Homo sapiens: one gene and its partners. The protein of the gene in region 1 purifies or fractionates together with the protein of each later gene. This does not show direct contact. Each region holds a gene or a part of one and is shown on either strand. Other genes may lie near its edges.

The links. Proteins that work in one complex are often made in the same cells at the same time.
Region 2: the proteins of SNAP91 (region 1) and BRIP1 purify together in Homo sapiens (affinity purification with mass spectrometry; one large-scale study listed by BioGRID and IntAct). This does not show direct contact.
Region 3: the proteins of SNAP91 (region 1) and CAMSAP2 purify together in Homo sapiens (affinity purification with mass spectrometry; one large-scale study listed by BioGRID and IntAct). This does not show direct contact.

What each region holds. Positions count from the first base shown.
Region 1 is NC_000006.12:83,587,102-83,590,601, reverse strand, and holds part of SNAP91 (clathrin coat assembly protein AP180), read left to right. Parts: intron 1-3,500. UniProt on the Homo sapiens protein: Adaptins are components of the adapter complexes which link clathrin to receptors in coated vesicles. Clathrin-associated protein complexes are believed to interact with the cytoplasmic tails of membrane proteins, leading to their selection and concentration.
Region 2 is NC_000017.11:61,678,639-61,682,083, reverse strand, and holds the end of BRIP1 (Fanconi anemia group J protein), read left to right. Parts: 3' UTR 1-2,945; downstream 2,946-3,445. UniProt on the Homo sapiens protein: DNA-dependent ATPase and 5'-3' DNA helicase required for the maintenance of chromosomal stability. Acts late in the Fanconi anemia pathway, after FANCD2 ubiquitination.
Region 3 is NC_000001.11:200,737,694-200,741,692, forward strand, and holds the start of CAMSAP2 (calmodulin-regulated spectrin-associated protein 2), read left to right. Parts: upstream 1-1,199; 5' UTR 1,200-2,134; coding exon 2,135-2,273; intron 2,274-3,999. UniProt on the Homo sapiens protein: Key microtubule-organizing protein that specifically binds the minus-end of non-centrosomal microtubules and regulates their dynamics and organization.

The DNA.
Region 1 (3,500 bases):
TCAAAACTGCTATTACATAGACCACTGTTTTTGTTTTTTGTTTTTTTTTTTAACAAGCTGATCATTTTTCTATGTGAAAACTCATGGGGTGATCTCAGCTCAACAGGGTCATAGTGTGAAATAGATTGGTACAGTTTGCCTTGGATTACTGCTTGTGGCCCAAGTAGTATATATAGAATAAAAGGAAACAGTTCAAGGACTCAAAAATAGTAAAAGCCAAGTATTGGTCTTCCTTGGGAGCAAGACAAAGTGTGTGCTTAGTGATAGCCTTGACCTAGAAATTATTATTTTCATAAGCAAAGCATTATGAAAGACCAGTTGCAAGACCACAGTAGTAAGTTTAAGTTCAGATTATTAGTCAAACTCACAAGACATTGTTGGCTTACCTTACTCTGATTTTACTTAGACAGGTACATAACAGGAAGCACAACAGTAGTTTCACAGAGGACTCAGTCACTCAGATGCAGCTTCTGAGGCCCCTCCACAGTCACCACAAGGGTTGAATTTTGGTCCTAAGGTTGACAAGGGGCTGACGAGAGCATGGGTCACATCACCACTGGGAAGCTGCCATGCATGTCTGAAGTCTTGCATCTTAAATACCGTGCTAGTGCTAGCCATGTAGACCTTGATAAAGCATATGAATAGTTCCCTTTTTTAGTGTGGATATAGCCCATAAAATTACAAGTTATACAATAAACAATCCTGGCACCAGGTACAGCAAGCTGAGGAACATTTATTCTTGGATTAGTGGTGAGTAATGGCAGATGCTAAAAGACCCTCATCAGCCTTCAGAGTTGTAGGGAGTTTGAGTTGAGGTCAAATCTTTCCTCAGGAAGCTAAAGCAGGTAGTCGTAGCCCAGCTGTTAACCTTTCCTTCCATCAGTAATTCAGACTGGCTATTTAACAGTCTTTCCCAGGGGCAATAGTTCTCTAGTGTCTTTCCCATCCTTTCCTGACTACTATGATCAAACATAACAGTCTTGCATGCTGAAACCACTCATACCAGTGACTACCACTAGGTATTTTCCTCAGCACTGAAGAACCAGGGCCCCACCATGATATTGCTGAGAACTTATGCTGAGAAGCTAGCATAAGAAATTTTAACTTACTTTTAATTTCCGTAGGGCTTAATTTTGGGGGCTAATTTTTCATACTTCCCTGTTTTGTTATAGAAAAATATTTCTCACCCTTGTTCAAGTATCAAAACATAAGGAAATCATATTCTCACTAAAGAACATCATGGAATATTTGGAAGTTGCAGAGATGATAAGAGGCAGTACACTTAACACAAACCACAGCTGGTTACTTGGAGAAATAAACTGCTAGTTTGCCTGGCTTTTATCCAGGCCTAGATATTCTTATATCAGCTTCCAATTGGCTACAGAAACTTTCAAACTCTTACTAAACCAATAAACTTCATACACATTTTGGGGGTTCAGCAATAAGATTTTAACATGCCACAGAAATAGCATAGTTTTAATGGCTATTTGAGGGATCATGACCTTGTTAACTTTAAAATGAGATTAGTGATTACAAACATTTTGCTTTGAAGTTATAATTAAGATTAAAACGGCCCATAAAATCAAATATTCTGGCCTTTCACAGAAGCCTATGAATTCTTTCTTTCTCTCCTGGGTATCCCATCCCCTGCCACAGATCTCAAATGGGAATTTGAAGCCTACCAGACAGTAGCCTGGCAGAGCGGTCAGCCACTGTTGACCACCTCCAGTGCTACACAGCCACATTGTCTACTCCAGGATCCTCCTCCATTGTGGCCTCTCTGTGTCCTCCAAGGCTAGAACCTGAGATATTGTGTTTCTCAAAGAGCCCAGAACACTAGAAACTGGAGCTGAAAGGCCTTTTCCTGTGGGAAAAGGGAGTGTTCCCATCCAATTCCAAGTTAGAAGTCAGTAACAGAGCCAAGAGATTTGACCCTGGGGGATGCAATAAGAATCTAAAAACACATCTAGAACAAGCCTGAAGGGGTTTGTCACCTGCTGCCAGGTGTAACTGCACATACCTGTGCCACAGCTGCACAGCTTGGTATATGGACAGGTCCAGCAGGGGAAGTCTACAAAAAAAGTATGTTAGTTCACTTTACAAAAAATAAAATTATTCAATTGTGTTGTCTATTCTGAAATCTTATTAAAATGGGGTAGAAAAGAGGAGAAAATCATCAATGAAAGTACCCAATGTCATCTACATAGGTCTCATTTACTACACACTTTCCATTTCTTCTACTGCATCTTCTTGTGACTCTTTCAGTGATAGGCAAAGTTATATATTGTGTACACTTTCTTATTTCTCTCTTTTCTATTTAAATAAATTAATATTCAATGTAAATCAGTATAGATGAGTTTAATGTCTCATTTGCTTTCAAAACAGTTCTTGTAATTTAATGTATACATATGTCAGTGCCTGATTTATTTGGCACAATGTGAAATATTATTTCACCTTATATCCTGATATAAGGGGTTGGATGCAGTGTCCCACAATCATAATCCCACCACTTTGGGAGGCCCAGATGGGCAGGATCACTTGAAGTCAGGAGTTTGAGCCAGCCTGGCCAACATGGTGAAACCCTAATCTCTACTGAAAACAAAAAACAAAAATAAGCTAGCATAAGAAATTTTAACTTTTAATTTCCATAGGGCTTAATTTTGGGGGCTAATTTTTCATACTTCCCTGTTTTCTTATAGAAAAATATTTCTCACGCTTGTTCAAGTATCAAAGCATAAGGAAGTCATATTCTCACTAAAGAACATCATGGAATATTAATATAATTCTATCCTGTGAACTAGGAGCAACTTTCCTAGCCAAAAACAAAAAAATAAAAAATGAAAAAAATTCTGCTAATAAACGCAATATAAAACCACAGTCACATTTATATTTGTAACCTAGCTGACAATTGGCTGTTTCTGAGTTTTCACAATTCTCGTACATTTTTATTTAATGCATATTAAGTAGGACAAATATTTGGGGCACTGTGTGTAGTAATTTGCAGTGAAGCTTAGCATTTGTATTATAGTTGTGTCTGTGTTTATTTGGGGGAGGGATCAGCTAAGTCCACAGTCTATTGAAACTAAGAAGATTTTTAAAAAAAAATAAATAAATGAGCCTAGTCATACATAGCAAGCCCACAAATATGATCAGAATCAAAGAGAGAGAAGAGAGAAAAAGATTCTCTAGAATCCTGTGATTGCCTTTAGTAATAAAACTGTTTTGAGAAAGAATGAAAAAGAAAAATAATATGCAGACACTGTCATGGGAGGTTTAGACTGTTCAAAGGGAACCTTGGTCACTGGACTAAGGACTCTTACCCCATGCCTAAGATTAGATTTTTTTGAGTGAATACATTTACATGTGAATCATAAAGATAAGGCAATAAATATATGATATAATTAAATTTTAAAATGATTTTAGAGATTTTAAACTAAACATTAAGAACCATTTTAAAATTGAGGCGAAAGCTTTGTTAAAAATTGGTATCATTTTGAAAC
Region 2 (3,445 bases), on another chromosome or scaffold:
TTTGTGAATGAAGCTATATGTCTAATCAAAAATGATTATAAAAGAGGCTCATCTCTGACATCATTCCAAAAATACATTCATTGATCTCTTTTTAAGAAACATCTGTTATTCACTGGGCATTGGGACTTTTTGTGAGTAATTTGAATTGAAATTTTATGAGCTATCCAAGAATTCTGTATGGTCTATTATTTTCAAGTCAAAATTTCCAGTAAGGATTTACTTTACATTTCATTTGGATAAATGAATCATTATATAGGTATGTCTTTGCTTCCATTTTGAGACATTTAGATTTTTACAGCCTGTTTCTATAGCATTTGATGTTACAACTCTAAGCGTAGTTCAAAGACATTTAAATTGACAAGTTACCAGTTAAAGAATTTAGAATATATTAGATCCCATCTAGTATTATATATTTTTTCTAGTTGATCATTGAGCAGTAAATACCAAATACTCGATTAGAAGGTAATTTTTACATTGTTTTGAAAGGGTGAAACAATTTATCTCCTCTGGTATTATTCTTAAACCACAGATAGGGATAGTAGGGTAGTGAAACGAATAAATACCTGGTAGAAGACAAGAGACTTGGGCTCTACACCTGGCTCTGCCACTGATTTGCTAAGTCATATTGGCAATCACCACACCCTTCAGGGAATTAGTTTCATCTGTAAAATGCAGCGGTTAGTACTATAAAATCATACAAATTTCTTTGTGCTTTGAGAATCTATAAAGGAATGTCTGTTGATATTCTGAGTCGATTTTCATTTGCTTTTGTTCCAGAACGGTTAAAATAAAGCATATTATTTCATTTAAAAAGTAAAGTGGCTCTTACTCATTTACATTTAGGGAACGATGGTGACGTGGTTTGGCTATGTCCCCAGCCAGATCTCATCTTGAATTGTAGTTCCCATAATCCCGACGTGTTGTGGGAAGGACCCAGTGGGAGGTAATTGAATCGTGGGGGCGGTTACCCTCATGCGGTTCTCGTGATACTGAGTTCTTATGAGACCTGATGATTTTATAAGGAGCTTTTCCCTGCTTCACTCTCATTCTTCTCTCCTGCTGCCCTGTGAAAAGTTGCCTTCCGCCATGATTGTAAGTTTCTTGAGGCCTCCTCAGTCATGCAGAACTGTGAGTCAATTAAACCTCTTTCCTTTATAAATTACCCAGTCTTGGGTATGACTTTATTAGCAGCATGAGAACAGACTGACACAGATGGTATATGTGCATAATAACTTGGAAAGCTAGATATTTATTTTCGCAATGCTACAATTAAAACATTTTGAGGACTTTTAAAATTACCTTTAGGGCCAGGCGCGGTGGCTCACGCCTGTAATCCCAGCACTTTGGGAGGCCGAGGCGGGCGGATCACGAGGTCAGGAGATCGAGACCATCCTGGTTAACACGGTGAAACCCCGTCTCTACTAAAAATACAAAAAATTAGCCAGGCGTGGTGGCGGGCGCCTGTAGTCCCAGCTACTCAGGAGGCTGAGGCAGGAGAATGGCGTGAACCCGGGAGGTGGAGCTTGCAGTGAGCCGAGATTGCGCCACTGCACTCCAGCCTGGGCGACAGAGCGGGACTCCGTCTCAAAAAAAAAAAAAAAAAGAAATTACCTTTAGAATTGGTAAACTACATGAGAAAATTAAGCATATTATTCATATCTTAGTGTTATTACCCAACTTCATCTCCAATACTTTCCCCTTTCCCTAGCTAGATATGTTTTTGTTTGTTTGTTTTAGACAGTCTTGCTCTGTCGCTCAGGCTGGAGTGCAAAGGCACGATCTTGGCTCACTGCAACCTCTGCCTCGCAGGTTAAAGCGATTCTCATGTCTCAGCCTCCTGCGTAGCTGGGATTACAGGTGTACACCACTGCACCCAGCTAATTTTTTTTTTTTTTTTTTTTTAAGTATCGACAGGGTTTCACCATGTTGGCCAGGCTGGTCTCAAACTCCTGACCTCAAGTGATCTGCCCACCTCGGCCTCCCAAAGTGTTGGGATTACAGGCGTGAGCCACCATGCCTGGCCTAGATATTTTTTATTCTTTCCAAAATTTAATTCTCCCTGAAGTTAAAAATTTTCATTACTGAGAATGTACATAGAGATGTGTCACAACCCTTTAGTAATTCCAAAAGGTGTTTCAAAAATTTTATACAATGATAATCACTGTTGAAACAGGTGTATATTCTCCTCAGATCATGACTGACCAAGATGATATTCCAAGAAGTAAACTACTGGCCTTTATAGAGTAGGATGTAGGCCATTTTCATTACTGATAACATACTTTTAAAAGAAATGTTTACAGATTTAAATAAGTTAAAACATCTAAATGCTTTTAAAAGAGCACCTGGCACATTGCAAGTTATTCATTATTAATTAGTAGATGAATCATATATCTGGAGTGCACCCTTGCTCTATATGAAAGCTTCCCTAACTATAGATATATAGGTGATAGACTGACAATAAAGATTTGAGGAAAGAAAAATTATTTGGCTGGCTTATTTTTTAAGCTTTTGAGATGTATAAGGTAGAGATTGTTTATCAAATAATTTATGTGACACATTCAATGCATATGAAATAATTATCTAATACTGAATTTATTCAAGGACTGAAAGTATATAGAGCACACAGGCTGCAAACCAGGAAAACTACCAGTTAGAGACAGGGCTTTATTCTTGGAATAAAGGTACAATGTAAAGAGTAGATGTTTCATGACTTGATTAAATTATTTAAAACTGTCTAGAATTGTGTTATAAAACTATTACTATGTTTCTATGCACTTAGTTATTACATGGGTTTAAATTTGGCACTGTTTCTAAGTTTCTATAAGGCTTTGTTGTTAAGATCTTTCTATTCAAAACATTAATTTTAACAAAAAGCTTTTCCCCGTTATTTTTCTGCAACTGGACTTTTTTGTATTACTTTCCTATATTAAAACGCATTTAAAATATTTAATTCTTTAGGGCTGCTTACAAAATTTCATGAAATCAAAGCACCTGTTGTCAAATCACTTGAAAGGCTGGTTATCATGGTCATCTCTAAGTGATGGCATTCTTTTGTATTTGATTACCACACAATTATTCTCGCATATGCTCTTTTAAACGCTGATTTCTCAATGAGTTACACAAGAATTTAACCTTTATGAATTCTTGGTGGTTTATTATCTATTTCCATAGGTAAATGCAGTTAATCTTTTGTAAATAGATAGTATTGATGATAATCAAAAAAAATTTTAAGACCAGATCAAGCAATGAATGTAAGAAAGCTAAAACCTTAACGTAAAATAACTGCAGAGCTATGAAAAATACAATAAAGAACATCAGGAAATAGAAATTTGGAAAAGTGACCAAGGCTTATGATCCTCTAGCCTTAAACAATTTTCATGTCTCAAAAAAAAAAAAAAAGAATTTTGTTTCTTAAGTTTCATTTGATAGAACCATTAGCTGCCTG
Region 3 (3,999 bases), on another chromosome or scaffold:
GCGACTTAACAAGACTCCGTCTCAATAATAATAATAATAACAACAACAATCACTTAAAAATAAAATTAGATAATGTATTAAAATGAGACGTGAGGAGCTAGTGATTTAAGTAAGCTCAGTATGTGTTAACTTTGATAATATTCACATGTAGTCCATTAATTGAGCAATTATACTATGGGGCTGGGCACCGTATAGCTGCTGGAGATATACCCTGTCATCATGTCATCAATGGGAAAAACCGACAAGTAACTGATTATTGCCACACGATGTGACAGATGCTACGACAGAAATAAGAACAGGGTGCTCCGGGAACAACAGGGGAGGCACCTGTGTGACAGCCCTGACTGGAAAGTTGTCAGCAGCTGTCAGGGAAGGCTTCATGGAGGAAGTGACTACTGTGGAGTTTGAAGGTGCAGTAGGAGTAAGCTGGGTGGACAGAGGAACCACCCTGAGCAAGGAGGTAGAGATCTGAGAAGGCATGCTCATTGAAGAAAATAGAGAGCAGTTCTGACAAAATGAAGCTATAAAGGCCTGTAGATGCCAGATCACAAAGGGCATTAGCTTGTTTTGTGAAAGAATTTATGCTCTTTTCTGAGAGAATGGGGAGGCATTGTTGGACGTGTGCCCTCTCAGAGATAAAATTTAAGTGGAGAGCACTGAGTTAAGAAAATATCTCGATATCATGAAATTAACACAGGTTTGGAGCCCCCACAGATCCTCAATCCTGGTTAAGTTCCATGTATGACCTAATCAACTCCACCTCTCTTTCGTGGACAATCAGCAATGACATCTACCTCTCAGGATTATTGCGAGGGCTAAATGAGATAGTGCAGGTCAAGTTCGCTGCAAAGTGTGTGTCACATAATGAACATTTTAAGTAAATATCAACTCTTTTCGATGAAGCACTGTGTAAGTAGAATACGAAAGCTATTGCCAGGCCTCTCCCTCCTCCCTCCCTTCCTTTTCCTCTCTCAGCAGTGCAGGCAGCAGCAGCCAAAAGCCAGGGACGTGGAGGATGTCCACTGAAGCGAGTACTCCAGAGCGATGATTAAAAGGCAGCCGCCCCGAATCCCGGGCGCGGGCGGGGAGCGAGGCTGGGCATGCTCAGTGGGCCGGAGACGGGAGGGAAGCGGGGAGGGGGCGGGGGCGGGGGCGGGGGTTGGGGGGGGTGGGTCGGAGCCGCGCGAAGGCGCATGCTCAGTCTCCGCATCTGCTCCTTCATCCAGTGCCGCAGCCGGAAAACCGCAGCGGCGGCGGCGGCGGCTGAGGGGGAACGATCCAGCGAGCTGCAGAAAGGGGGGCAGGAAAAAATTACAAGGACATTACTGATAAGACAGGAACTGAGAGCTTGGGATTCGCGGCCTCTCCCCGGCCACCACCTTCGCCGTCAGCAAGGGAGGAAGACCCGGGAGACGGCAGCGGCGACGGCGGCAGGGGAAGGAGGAGACGGCGACGGGAGGGAGCACAGAGGAGGGGACGGGCCGGCGGCGGCCTGTGAGCCGCAGTGATTTTGACGTTTTCCGCTGCTGCGTCTCCGGCGGGCAGGGGCCGGGCTGCGCTGGGTGGGCCAGCTCGCCCCGCGCTTCCCCCTCGTCCTGCTCGTCCCTCCGCCCACCCGGGGCCTGAGGGGTCTCCCCGCTCCGAGGGAAGGGGAGAGGGAGGCGAGGGCGTGCGGGCATCGCGATGGCGGGGACATTTTCCACAACGTGATTGTTGAAGGCTCCCCCCATCCCCCCTCCCTTAAAATTCCGGGCCCTTCCAGCCTCCACCCTCCCCCAAGCCCGTGTGACTAAACCGAGACAAAGGGGAGGCGGCCTCGCTCACACGCGGGCTCGCGGGGCGGGTGGCTCGGAGGGGCGCGGGCACGGGGCGGACCTCGCGCGGACGGACGGACGGAGACGGCGCCGCCACATTCCTATGCCCGGGAGCGGCGGCGGCGGCGGCGGCGGCTCCCGCGGGAGGCGGCAGGCGCGCGGCGCGGACAGCTGAGCTTCTCCTCCGTCGGCGCCCGGGCGGACATCGCCCGGGCCCCGATGGTTTGAGCTTGCTTCTCCCTCCCTCCCGACCCCCGTGGTGGCGAGGCCACGCCATGTGAAGGTTAGGGCCGGGACATCCCGAGGAGCCGCGGTGAAAGATGGGGGATGCTGCAGACCCCAGGGAGATGAGAAAGACGTTCATTGTTCCAGCCATCAAGCCTTTTGACCACTATGATTTCTCCAGGGCCAAAATCGCCTGCAATCTGGCCTGGCTGGTGGCCAAAGCCTTTGGGACAGGTTAGTGGTGTCACCCTTTCCCTCCCCTCTTCCTCCTGATGTGGTCCACATCTCGGTTTTTGTTCCCGATTCTCGAATCCCTCCCTCCCCGTGCCTGTCTTCTCGTACAGGTTAAGGGAGATGATGGGAGGCTAGGAAGAGAAAGAAAGGAGAAATAAGGAAAGCAGGTTTGGTCTTCAATGAAGGGCACGTGAATGGTCAGGTGGGATTTGGCCAGATTCCTTTTATTGGATGGCAAAATGTCCCCCCCATCCCCCAGTGAGCAATTTTATGTTTTTACATAGAGTGGTTTTGATTTGTGGTATTTTCTTCATTGTGTTGCGTACATTTCTGCCTCAGTCATAATTGTGATTACACCACCAAGAAATCTGAGTTGGTTTCTTTATTATTGCAAGAAGGTGGATGGTGCATAGTACTATATTGATTTTGACATTTGTAATGATGGCTGCTATTCAGGCTCCGTTGGATGTAAGGTGGCCTGTGTCGAGTGCAGTATTAATTTTTGTTGTCATTCTTTAAGGCTGTATCAGCCTTCTGCACGCATGTTAAGTTCTTATTAAATCAGTTATTTAAAACCAGCGTTCAGTTTGCTGACTGTAGGGTGCAGTTTTCATTTCATATTATCAGTGAGGCATATTCTTTTTTCCAAATGTATTTTGGCTTCATAAATTAAAAGAAACAAAAACTCCCTACTTTGGGAAGTTTTTTAATAGATGAGTTTTTCGAAGGCGTGTGCTGTTGACACAGAAATTGTATAGTACAGTAGCAGTTAAACACTCCCTCCATAACCCAGTCTTTGCAAAATAACAGGAAAAGGGCCTCCCGTTATGATTCTTTAGTGTTGCTTTAGGAGCCCATGTTGTGAAATGTTAAAAAAATTAGAGAGCTGCTTTTCATTGGAAGATGCTTCTGTAATTTGGTAACTTTTAAGAGTAATTTTACAAGATTTCTGTTCCCTAGTTAATGAAGTTTAGATATATGAAATATTTGTTGAAAAGTTCCCTAGTACTCACAAATTTCCACATGTTAAATATAGGGTTTTTCAGGGGGAGGGTGACTAATTTCCAATTTTAGGACTATGTAATGTTTTGGTAAATGGTTTAGTTCAGTTTTACTGCTTAAACTTACACAGCTGAGTATTTTCAGGACTTACACATCCTACTTAAATAGCAGATTAATCTCAGTGTTTGGAAAATGATTTGAATTTGTTTTTGGGGAAACTTGACATTGATGTGATTTTATGTTTATGGCAGCCTTAATTTTACTTGAATTTTTATGCTTTGATATTAAGCTGGCATCAGGAATAAATATAGTAAATCCTTTTCAAATTATTTAAATTTTAAACATCTCTTTGAAATTGAATGTCTAGCGTAACTCATAGGAAGAAACACAAAGTGTTACTGCCTTTATATAAAAACATTCTGGCACCACTGATATAAGCAGTGAGAATAATAGATGTATTTTGGTTTTAACTTAAGCAGCACACTGAAGCCGGTATCTATTTGGATGGCAAATCAAGGCTATTTAAGTGCTTAGAAAACATGGAAAGAGGGAAATTTACATAGTCACCTATGTGGAAAAGTAGTATGTATAAAGTGGAAGGCAAAGGGAATAAGAGAAATATTTTCTTTCCATCTGGAACTGAGAGGATACTTATAGGATACAGATATCAAAATTTTGCCATGCATACACAAAAGCTTCCAGCTAGAAAATGGCCTACTTTCTG